Regions from separate parts of the Homo sapiens genome. Here region 1 is linked to region 2. The links come from fine-mapping of genetic effects on gene expression. A gene starts in region 2. The other region holds a variant in brackets. All regions are shown on one strand. Distances are from middle to middle. Region 1 overlaps CTNS (cystinosin, lysosomal cystine transporter). Region 2 holds the start of CTNS (cystinosin, lysosomal cystine transporter).

Region 1 (5,362 bases), 25 kb before region 2:
CCATATGTGCTGGGAGAGGCTGGGTGCAGGGACAGAGGGACGGCTGAGAATGTGCCATGCTGGCTTCCGCTGTGTGATAAGGGGCCAGTCCAGTGACCACAGGGCTTGACTTGGGCTGCCCCTTTCCAGGGTATTTATGTCACACGGGTGTCTGAAGGAGGCCCTGCTGAAATCGCTGGGCTGCAGATTGGAGACAAGATCATGCAGGTAACAGGTGTCCCAAAGGAGGAGAAACAAGGTTTGGGCAAGCAGGTCTGAAGCACTTGGGGGTGGGGAGCTGCCCCAGCCTCCCAGCTGGGAGAGACTCACTGCAGCCAATTGGGAACCCATACTGGCATTGCCCCAGAGGACGCTGGCTTTCTCTCCTGTGTGTCTCAGCCACAGTGCTTGGTGTCTCCCAGCCCTGGGATGTTAGGCTGGGGGCCTACTTGAATGACCTGGGCCCCCAAAGCCCTCTGCTTCCAGATCCCAGAGGGCGGGGAGCTGAGGTGAGCCTGTGTTCTCTCCTGGGGCCAGGTGAACGGCTGGGACATGACCATGGTCACACACGACCAGGCCCGCAAGCGGCTCACCAAGCGCTCGGAGGAGGTGGTGCGTCTGCTGGTGACGCGGCAGTCGCTGCAGAAGGCCGTGCAGCAGTCCATGCTGTCCTAGCAGCCACCACCATCTGCGACTCCTGCCTGCCGCCTCTCTGTACAGTAACGCCACTTCCACACTCTGTCCCCATCTGGCTTCTGCTGACCGCTGGGCCCCAGCTCAGAAGGGCTATAGCTGGTCCCAGAGGCCTGGCCTGGCCTTCCTTCCCTTCTCCCATCCCTGGCCTGGGGCCTCTGGGACCGGCTTTCTCTCCTGGACACCGAGGATTGGAAATAAGGGCCTGGAGCTGAGTAGTAGCCAGTCTGCTGTGACCACAGGCTCAGGTCCGACCCTGCTGCTTGGCCACAGCAGTGGCTGGGCAAGTGGGAACCACTATCTCTTGGGAGCCCCCAAAAGCTGGGAAATGCTGGAGGAACCAGGCCTTTCCCGCTTTTGCCTGGCTGCAGGGTTCGGCTCCGCCCCTGCCCCCCAGCCCTCGTGTGTCCACACCGCAGTGCCTCTGCCCCTCGGGGGACTGGACACACATCCTGCCAGAGGCGCTACGAAGCTTTGCCCAGATGAAGCCAGGTGGGCTCCGCGTTCACTCCCACTCTCCCGAGGGGTGCTGGCCTCCCCAGGGTTTGCCTTCTTACGGATTTAGACGAGGTTCGAGGCTCACCTATCAGGGCAGCTCTCAGGATTGTCATTTTCCTCTTTGCCTGTGGGTTTAACTTTTGTATTTTTTTAATCACAAGTTTGATACAAAATGTTTTTATCGTACTCTTTGGAGATGCCCATTCTACTTTTGAATTTAGCTTTTACTAATTCGCATCTGGAAGCTCAGCAAGTGCACAAGCCTTACTTTGGTTACCGTGGAAACCACTGCCGCCCCTCCCCGATGTGGTGCGCTCAATAAAAATGCTGGAATTCACAGGGGGCTTTGCTGAGGCATGGGCTGGGATATCGGGGTGGGGGTGGCGGTGGGATATTGGGGCCAGAGCTGTGGTTTTAATGATGGCCCCATCCCCCACTGTTCTGGGACAAAGCTCAACTACTCCCAGGCCCACCTGCCTGAAAGCCCGGGGCTGGTGGAGCCGCAGCAGCTGCACTGCGCCTGACCAGAACCACATCTGTGGGAGTGTCTGGGAGCACTGGGGTGGGACCCTGGGGTGCGTGTGCTTTCTTGGGTGTTACTGTGAAGCCCCTACTTGCTCCCAACCTCCTTTTTGCAACCTAGCCTCAGCTCCCACCTGGGAGGGGCCGTAGGGACACCCAGAGGTGCCTGGGAGAGACCCCTGCCTATAAGACTCCCTGCCTATAAGGGCACTCCGTGTATCCCAGCGAGGGACACAACCCCACGTGTTGCTGGGGGCCGTGATCTGGCCAGATGGGGGTGAGTCAGAGAGCACCTGACTACCTGCGTACCACCTCTGGGAAGGTGTTAGCACTCCTGGACCTACCTAGCACTGCCAAATCAGATTTTAAAGAAAAGTCAATAATTTTTTTTTTTTTTTGAGATGGAGTTTCGTTCTTGTTGCCCAGGCTGGAGTGCAATGGCGTGATCTTCGCTCACTGCAACCTCCGCCTCCTGGGTTCAAGTAATTCTCCTGCCTCAGCCAACCAAGTAGCTGGGATTACAGGTGCCCGCCACCATGCCCAGCTAATTTTTGTATCTTTAGTAGAGATGGGGTTTTGCAATGTTGGCTAGGCTGGTCTCGAACTCCTGATGTCAGGTGATCCATCTGCCTTGGCCTCCCAAAGTGCTGGGATTACAGGCGTGAGCCACCGCACTCAGCCGGAAAAGTCAATCATTTGAAATCTCTGATTTTTAAAGTAGGGCACCCAGTAACACATTTACTGGGTGTTGCAAGTGAAACAGGTCTGTGGACCCCGTCAGGCCAAAGTCTGCTCTGCAGAAACAAGACCTGACATTCTTTGACGTTTGTTACAACTAGATAGAGGAAGCGTCTGGAGAATAAGACCCCCACTGCCCCCGCTCCCAGTGCTGGTGTGCCCTTCAGAACCTCATCCACCCCGGCTCACATCCAGATTGAGTGGCGTGCCCTGGTAACCGTGAAGACACGGAGCCTGGGAGACTGACCTGGCCCTGGGCGGGTAGGCGTCTCGCGCTACCCAAGAGGGCTCCCCAGTGAAGTGTGGGGTCAGCACGCAGCGCTCTCGGGTCAGTGACCTTCACAACCTTATGCGCTTCCTTACACGAGGGGAGCAGGGCACCTGGCTCTGAAGGCCAGCACACCTGCCTTCTGTATCGAGCACACAG[AGT/T]GCAGAAAGGAAGCGAGTAGGTTTTAATTCAAGATACAGGCCCCTCGCGTTGATCTCGTAGAAGGAAACTCAGTGGACTGACAAGCTCAAGTCATGTATGAGGCACGTCCTGGGACCCCCACCCCTCCTGCCATAGGAAGGACAGCTTTGGGCAGAGGGAAGGAGGTTTGAGATCAGGGTTGGGCCCATACAGATTGTGTGAGGTGGTCTCAAGTACAAATACTTATCTGAGGCTCCTGAACAGGCCAGAAATTGGTGAGTCTCAAGTAGGTGTCTGGGGAAAGAGAGGGAAGGGGCCTGCCCTCGCTCCAGGGGAGCTGGTCGCCGTTTGGCAGGCCTAACAGACCTCTAAGGCACAGACTGGTAGCAGGAGAGAGCTATGTCCTGTACTCCAGATGCTGGGTAAGGAGCAGCTGGATGTGCTCAGATGGGGCTAATCTGAGAAGGTGGAGGTAGGAGAGAGGGCAGAAGAGAGTAAGCCACTTCCAAACGTCCCTCCAAAAAATCTGAAAGGAGTTACTATGCTAATGCGCTGGGCATGAATCCAATTCAGAACCAATCTGGTGGGCCCCTCATGGCTCAGAAATACTCTGGGTAGGGCTGGCTGTTACTGCAGTCACGGACGCTGAGTTATGTACAGAGAGTACGTCAGGAAAGTGGCCTTCAGAGAAAGAGCCCCATGGCCTAACCCCAAAGTCCTAGCCCGTCCACCAGCACCTCTGAGTTCACTGGCCACGGCACCGGGCTGCTTGATCTCTGGGAATGCAGCGGTGGCAGCAAAGTGCCCTTGGCTCACCCGGCTGCAAGGTCAGCCCTTCAAGCTGCTTGCAGAAACGCTGGTAGTTTGGGGCAAGGCCTTCGGCTGCAAGCTTGGTGCCCAGTCCTGCCTGAGACGGCTGCCAGAGCCTGTGCGCGCTGCCTGAAGCCTTAAAGAAAAGAGATGGCGGTGTCAAGGCGACGGTGCCACGTGCCTGGCCGGGGAGGCCCAGGAGGGGCCCGGACGAAGGCAGGCTATTGAATGGCCTCTGGCCCCAGGAGCAGAGTGGTCTCCTCTGTCCGCACACTGAGCCAGCCCTGTGTGCCAGGGCCCAACCGCTTCTCCGGCCTTCGCTGGGTGAGGCCTTCCCCAGCAGGGCACGAGGCCAGAGGCTGGGTACACTGGGTCCCTGGGTGCTAGTTCAGCTGGTCATACCCCGGTCTCTTTCTGTACAAACAGAAGTGCTGGATGAAGAAGACGACGTCGAAGACGATGGAGAAGACCCCGAGTCCAAACTTGGTTGGGTCTCCGAAGATCAGCGTCCACTGGTCTGTTAGCAGCCGGGGGACAGAAGCTGGTGTTAGGTTGGCAGCTCCTGAGGCAGCTGGAGCTTGTGGGGTGGTGGGCGGTGGGGGTCCCAGAAAACCACAAAGCCTCCAGCTACGAAGGCCCCTAGGTGGGTCTCTCCTTGGGGGCTGGATTGGCTTGGATCCCAGGTGGGGGTGGAGCCCTGGCTGGAAGGTCCCGGGAAGGCTGGCCCCGCCCGATGCCCCAGCCGCAGGGTGGCCAGCAGCCCGCTGGCTGACTCACCGTTGTTGTAGGACTGGAGGAACATCTGCAGGAGGCTGAAGCTGCCCCCGGTGAAGTCCAGGAGCACGTTGCCAATGCTCCAGCCCTCAGTGCTTTTGTAGTAAAAGTTCATGTAGGCCTGGGCCAGACAGACGGACAGACAGACGGAGGGCGGTGAGGGCTGGGCGGCTGCCTCATGCGCCTCGTGACTGCCCCTCCAAACAAAAGCGGTTCTCATTCCTCCCACTGGGGCCTTGGCTCCAAGGACACGGTGACCTTTGGGCTATGACAGGCCTCAGCCAAGGAACAGTTTGGGTGGTCCTGGGGGTAGGCGTCTCATCTGCATGTACAGCAAGCAAAGGCCCCGCACCCCCCACACCTCACAGCTCCAGCAGAGGCGGGGCCGATGCGGCCTTCCCCGTCTCCTCCACATCCCTGGGGCCAAGGCCCTGTGCTAGTTTCCCTGTAGCTATGATTCTTCTTCTCACCTCCAGGCAAGGCTGTCCCCAAACTCAGCCTGGACTTCATGTGCTTAGGGACTGGTGGGAGTGGGACTTCTGGTTTGGAATCCTGGCTCCATCACCGGAGCCTGCTGTCTTGGGCAAGTGACAGTTCTCCTAGCCTTGGTTTCCCCGTCTGTAGAGCGGGGTTAACGCCCCCCACAGGCCTGGCCGGGGCTTCCTGGGTCTGGTTGGGGGGGCGGGTCTGCGGGGATGCGCCCCAGTCTGACTGCCTGTGCCCCACGTCCTCCCATGCTGCAGAGCCCTGTGGGTCCTCTGACTGCTGTGACCTTTCCTTCCCCCCGTGAGGCAGGTCCTGGCCTCTCTGGTGGCCTCCCAGTGAGCCTCTAGTCAGTCCCTGTCTGTGTCCCGGCTCACCCTCTTCCGTACTTGCTGCTGCCCCTCCAGCAGTTCCAAACGTCTCCAACCTGGGCTCCTCCATCCCCGGTTTCTTGGC
Region 2 (5,362 bases):
TGCTGCAGGTCTGCCTCATCTGAGACCCTTCTCACCGGCCGGGAATGACCCCGTACCTACTCTCTGGCCTCCTCTGGGGGCCTTGCTCTTGGCGCTGGATCCCTGTGCTCTGTCCCCTGACCTTGGAGGAATTGCCCTCCTGCGTGTATGGAATGACCACAGGCCTCCCTCTCACTCTTGCTGCCCTCCGCTCCTCACACCTGCCCTGTGGCCTCAAGTTCAGGATTCAGTTTGTTGCCCAGGACAGAGTCTGGTTTTTCTCCAGAAATTAGATGCAGAATCAGGCCTAACCAGCTTCTCAAACTCACAGACTTGGTCAGCAAACATTCCCAAGCCTCAAAGGCTGAGACCCCTGGAGGAACGATGCCAGCAGAGACAAAACGACATTGAGAGGTAAGTCAATTAAAATGTTAAAAAACATCAGATTAGGCTGAGCGCAGTGGCTCGTGTGTGTAATTCCAGCACTTTGGGAGGCCGAGGCAGTTGGATCACTTGAAGTCAGGAGTTCGAGACCAGCCTGGCCAACATGGTGAATCCCCGTCTCTACTAAAAATACAAAAATTAGCCAGGCGTGGTGGCATGTGCCTGTAGTCCCAGCTACTCAGGAGGCTGAGGCAGGAGAATCGCTTGAACCCGGGAGGTGGAGGTTGCAGTGAGCCGAGATTGCACCATTGCACTCCAGCCTGAGTGATAAGAGTGAAACTCCGTCTCAAATTAAAAAAAAAAAACAAAAAAAAAACCAGATTGATAATTACATACAACTAGTGGCTTGTGAAAGCTACAAGATAGAAATGAAGTATCTCCTGACAATGGGCTCTGTCTGGCGTGCCCTTCCTATGTAAGTTCTAACTATTGTCCAGGCCTCATTCAGATGTCACATGTTTCAAGAAGGCTCCTCACCCATTCAGTCCCTTCCCAGGAGCAACCTGGGGCTAGGGGTCTAGTGTGGCAGCTCCTGTCTGCCAGGTATGAGTTGGTCCTGTCCTCTGTTCTACGACCTGGAACTCCCTGGGTCTCCTGCTTTTGGAGAGGGTACACAAATAGTGGCAAGGGCTGTGTGCACTGGAGACAGGCTTGACCTATTTATTACTTATGCGACCTTGTGGTGCCAAACAAGGAGGTGGTAACTACCTCACAGGACTTAAATGAGGAGATGTAAAGCACGCATTGTCAAGTGGGACTAAAATTGGCTGGGGGTAGGCTGGGCGCGGTGGCTCACGCCTGTCATCCCAGCACTTTGGGAGGCCGAGGTGAGCGCATCACCTGAGGTCAGGAGTTCGAGACCAGCCTGGCCAACATGGTGAATCCCCATCTCTACTAAAAATACAAAAATTAGCTGGGCATGGTGGCTCAGGCCTGTAGTCCCAGCTACTCGGAAGGCTGAGGTAGGAGAATCGCTTGAACCCCGGAGGCGGAGGTTGCAGTGAGCCGAGATCGCGCCACTGCACTCCAGCCTGGGTGACAGAGGCTGCAGACTCCATCTCAAAAAAAAAAAAAAAATTGGCTTGGGGTGGTAGTGAAGAAATCTAGCTATTACAATGGTTTGTGGCCACAGAAACAAATACACAGCGTACTAGTGGTATTAAATTTTATGGGAAGGGGGTAGGTAGGAATAACGAGGTTGAGAAACAAGGATATAAAGTGGTTACCTCTGTTGCTTAGGGCGCCTAGCGAGCTCTCACAAAACACAGTAATCCTCAATGTTACTGGAAGAGGCAGAGCTCAGGAGTCCTCCCTTCGCCCAGTGTGAAAACCCGGAGGGGAGGATGGGGTCTCGTGCTGCTCAGTCCCCCGGAGCCCCGCACTCCGCACGTCAACCGGCGCTCTCGCAAAGGTTCTCTCAGCGTCTCCAAAGCAATCTGCAAATTCCCCAACCGAGACCCAGGCGGCAACTGAGCAGAAGGTAAGGGGCTGGGAACGGCACCCACCCCGGCAGCCCGCTGCCCCTGCCTCGGCTGACCACCGCTCGGGCCCTTCCACCCGGGGGTTGTCCCGTGTCGCGAGGCCAGCACTGGTGGCGGGGAAAGGAGCCCGCCGCGGCTGAGGGCGCTGGACCCCCGGCAGGCTGCCCCGCTGACCTGCTGTGCCTCAAGGGGTCCGCCTGGGAAACAGGGGAGGCCGCGTCCGCTCTCACCTGAGCGCCCCCAGGCTCGAGGAACCGCCCTCACGGGACGCATGAGCCTCGCCAGGTGCCGGTCAGGAATGCACCGCGTTCCCCTGCCCGGCTAGACTTTGGGAGAGGCGGGTCCGCTGTCACCTGACCTCCGCCACCTGACTCGTGGGGCCGGATCTCGGCGAGATGAGCTCTGGGAGTTGTAGTTTCCGCGCGTCTTAGACGGACAGAGCGCAGCTGGGTCGGGCCGGGGCGCAGAGATCGGGGCTCCGGCGTGAGGGAAGATGAGGTCCGCTGCCAGGGACACAGAGACTCTTGGAGCCGCCAGCGCCTCCCGGCTCCTTTCGTGAGCGAAGCTCAGACCGCCCTCCATTGGGCGGAAATCAGAGCCCGTGGGGCGGGGCCCCCTTTAGGTCCCGCCTTCCGCCGCCTCTCCGCCTATAGCCGGGGCCCGCCGAGAGGTTGCGTGGAAGCTCGCCTTCCCCGGCCAGTGGGAAGACGAGAAGCCTCCATGTTGGGTGTGGCTGAAAGATTGGCAGGCGACTCCCCGCCCCTGCCCCGCCCCCCTGGGCGAAGAGCGCGGACTTGTGGGGCCGCTGGCTGCAGACTGGAGCTGCGCGGGTCAGGGAGATAATGGCTGCGCGGCCGATCACCCTCGGCATTGACCTGGGCACCACATCTGTGAAGGCAGCTCTGCTGAGGGCCGCGCCCGACGACCCATCCGGGTTCGCAGTGCTGGCGAGCTGTGCCCGTGCTGCGCGGGCAGAGGCGGCGGTCGAGAGCGCGGTGGCCGGGCCCCAGGTGAGTTGGACCCCCGGGGCCGCGCCGCCTCCAGGAGCCTCCTGACCACCCTTTTCCACCCCAGGAGGCCTCCCTGACAGCCCTTCCCGCAATGAAGTCTCTATTCCAGCTTGTCCCCAGCTTCTCCAGGGGCCCGTCTGCCTGCAGCAGCTGTGCTCATGATCCCTTAGGTCTGGTCCCAGAATCCTTCCCACCTGCTGGGACCGATTCCCCCCCGCCCCCTCCCCGACTCTCTGGCTTCTTCTGGGGGCCTTGCGCTTGGCGCTGGATCCCTGTGCTCTCTGTCCCCTGACCTTGGAGGAACTGATCTCTTGTGTGTATGGAATGACCACAGGCCTCCCTTTCACTCTTGCTGCTCTCCGCTCCTCACACCTGCCCTGTGACCTCAAGTTCAGGATTCAGTTTGTTGCCCAGGGCAGAGTCTGGGTTTTCCTCCGGAAATCAGATGTCAAATCAGGCCTAACTGGCTCCTGGCTCATTCCACAGAAGCAGAATGCGGACCAAGAAACCTTTGGTCAGCCGGGCGCGGTGGCTCACGCCTGTAATCCCAGCGCTTTGGGAGGCCGAGGCGGGCGGATCACGAGGTCAGGAGATCGAGACCATCCTGGCTAACACGGTGAAACCCCGTCTGTACTAAAAATACAAAAAATTAGCGGGGCGTGGTGGCGGGCGCCTGTAGTCCCAGCTACTCGGGAGGCTGAGGCAGGAGAATGGCGCGAACCCGGGAGGCGGAGCTTGCAGTGAGTCGAGATCGCTCCGTTGCACTCCAGCCTGGGTGACAGAGCGAGACTCCTTCCCTTCCTTCCCTTCCTTCCTTCCTTCCTTCCTTCCTTCCTTCCTTCCTTCCTTCCTTCCTTCATTCTTTCCTTTCTTTCTCTTTCTTACCAAGTCTCGCTCTGTTGCCCAGGCTGGAGTACAGTGGCGTGATCTGGGCTCACTGCAACCTCCGCCAACTGGATTCAAGTGATTCTCCTGCTTCAGCCTCCCGAGTAGCTGGGACTACAGGTGTGAGCCACCGCGCCCGGCTACTTTTTGTATTTTTAGTAGAGACAGGGTTTCGCCATGTTCGCCAGACTGGTCTTGAACTCCTGACCTCAAGTGATCTGCCCACTTCAGCCTCCCAAAGTGCTAGGATTACAGTTGTGAGTCACTGCGCCTGGCCCAGCTTTGTTTTTCACAAGCTCTTGCCACATACATGGACACGGTTGTTTAGGGTTCAGAGCCCATTTGGCTCAGAAGCATTTCTGAGGATAGGGATTTCAGGAGCACTTTGTATCTACATAGAAGCTTTCAAGATTAGTTTGGTTGGGACATTAGGGCATATTAAAAGGATTCTTACTTAAAGGACTATGAATTGGAGGCAAAGTTGGCTCTGACCCTGGTGGGGTGAGCAGGAGAGCTGGCATTAGGGGAGAGTAGGCTCAGAAAGTGCCAGTTTCTCCTGAAATAGAGCACTTCTTTTTTTTTTTTTTTTTTTTTTGAGACAGGGTCTCGCTCTGTCACCCAGGCTGGAGTGCAGTGGTGCAATCTCTGCTCACTGAAACCTCTGCCTCCCGGGTTCAAGTGATTTTCGTGCCTCAGTTTCCCGAGTAGCTGGGATTACAGGTGTGCGCCACCATGCTTGGAGAATTTTTTTGTATTTTTGGTAGAGATGGGGTTTCACCATGTTGGCAAGGCTGGTCTCAAACTCCTGACCTCAACTGATCTGCCTGCCTCGGTTTCCCAAAGTGCTGGGATTACAGGTGTGAGCCACCGCACCCAGCATGGCCACTTTTTTTTTTTTTTTAATTGATCACTCTTGGGTGTTTCTCGCAGAGGGGGATTTGGCAGGGTCATAGGACAATAGTGGAGGGAAGGACAGCAGATAAACAAGTGAACAAAGGTCTCTGGTTTTCCTAGGCAGAGGACCCTGCGGCCTTCCGCAGTGTTTGTGTCCCTGGGTACTTGAGATTAGGGAGTGGTGATGACTCTTAACGGGCATGCTGCCTTCAAGCATCTGTTTAACAAAGCACATCTTGCACCGCCCTTAATCCATTTAACCCTGAGTGGACACAGCACATGTTTGAGAGAGCACAGGGTTGGGGGTAAGGTCACAGATCAACAGGATCCCAAGGCAGAAGAATTTTTCTTAGTACGGAACAAAATGAAAAGTCTCCCATGTCTACTTCTTTCTACACAGACACAGCAACCATCCGATTTCTCAATCTTTTCCCCACCTTTCCCCCTTTTCTATTCCACAAAACCGCCATTGTCATCATGGCCCATTCTCAATGAGCTGTTGGGTACACTACCCAGACGGGGTGGTGGCCGGGCAGAGGGGCTCCTCACTTCCCAGTAGGGGCGGCAGCACGGCCACTTCTTGAAAACTTTTCTGCCCTCCCTCCCCAGCTTTCAGCAGGCTGTTCTGTGCTTACAGGCTCACCCAGTGTGTCACACCTATTTAATGAA

What was found. PIP is the estimated chance that this variant, and not a neighbour inherited with it, causes the effect.
Region 1: its variant is fine-mapped to the expression of CTNS in whole blood (TOPMed, PIP above 0.99).

What each region holds. Positions count from the first base shown.
Region 1 is chr17:3,659,040-3,664,401 of GRCh38, reverse strand. It overlaps CTNS (cystinosin, lysosomal cystine transporter), which reads right to left. Exons shown (of 12, transcript NM_004937.3): 11 at 4,427-4,544; 12 at 1,299-4,166. The coding sequence ends at 4,033. TAX1BP3 (Tax1 binding protein 3) reads left to right here. Exons shown (of 4, transcript NM_014604.4): 3 at 130-207; 4 at 517-1,507. The coding sequence ends at 654. It overlaps P2RX5-TAX1BP3 (P2RX5-TAX1BP3 readthrough (NMD candidate)), which reads left to right. Exons shown (of 15, transcript NR_037928.1): 14 at 130-207; 15 at 517-1,509. Among named protein-coding and RNA genes, the nearest start is that of TAX1BP3, 6.9 kb to the left of the region's middle. The variant AGT/T (reference allele first, on the strand shown) is at 2,858.
Region 2 is chr17:3,633,604-3,638,965 of GRCh38, reverse strand. It overlaps CTNS (cystinosin, lysosomal cystine transporter), which reads right to left and starts at 2,206. Exons shown (of 12, transcript NM_004937.3): 1 at 2,135-2,206; 2 at 1,650-1,859. SHPK (sedoheptulokinase) reads left to right here and starts at 2,716. Exons shown (of 7, transcript NM_013276.4): 1 at 2,716-2,914. The coding sequence starts at 2,747. LOC105371493 (a long non-coding RNA gene) reads left to right here. Exons shown (of 6, transcript XR_007065579.1): 6 at 1-469. RefSeq lists silencers at 1,841-1,930, 2,941-3,000 and enhancers at 2,211-2,460, 4,299-5,164.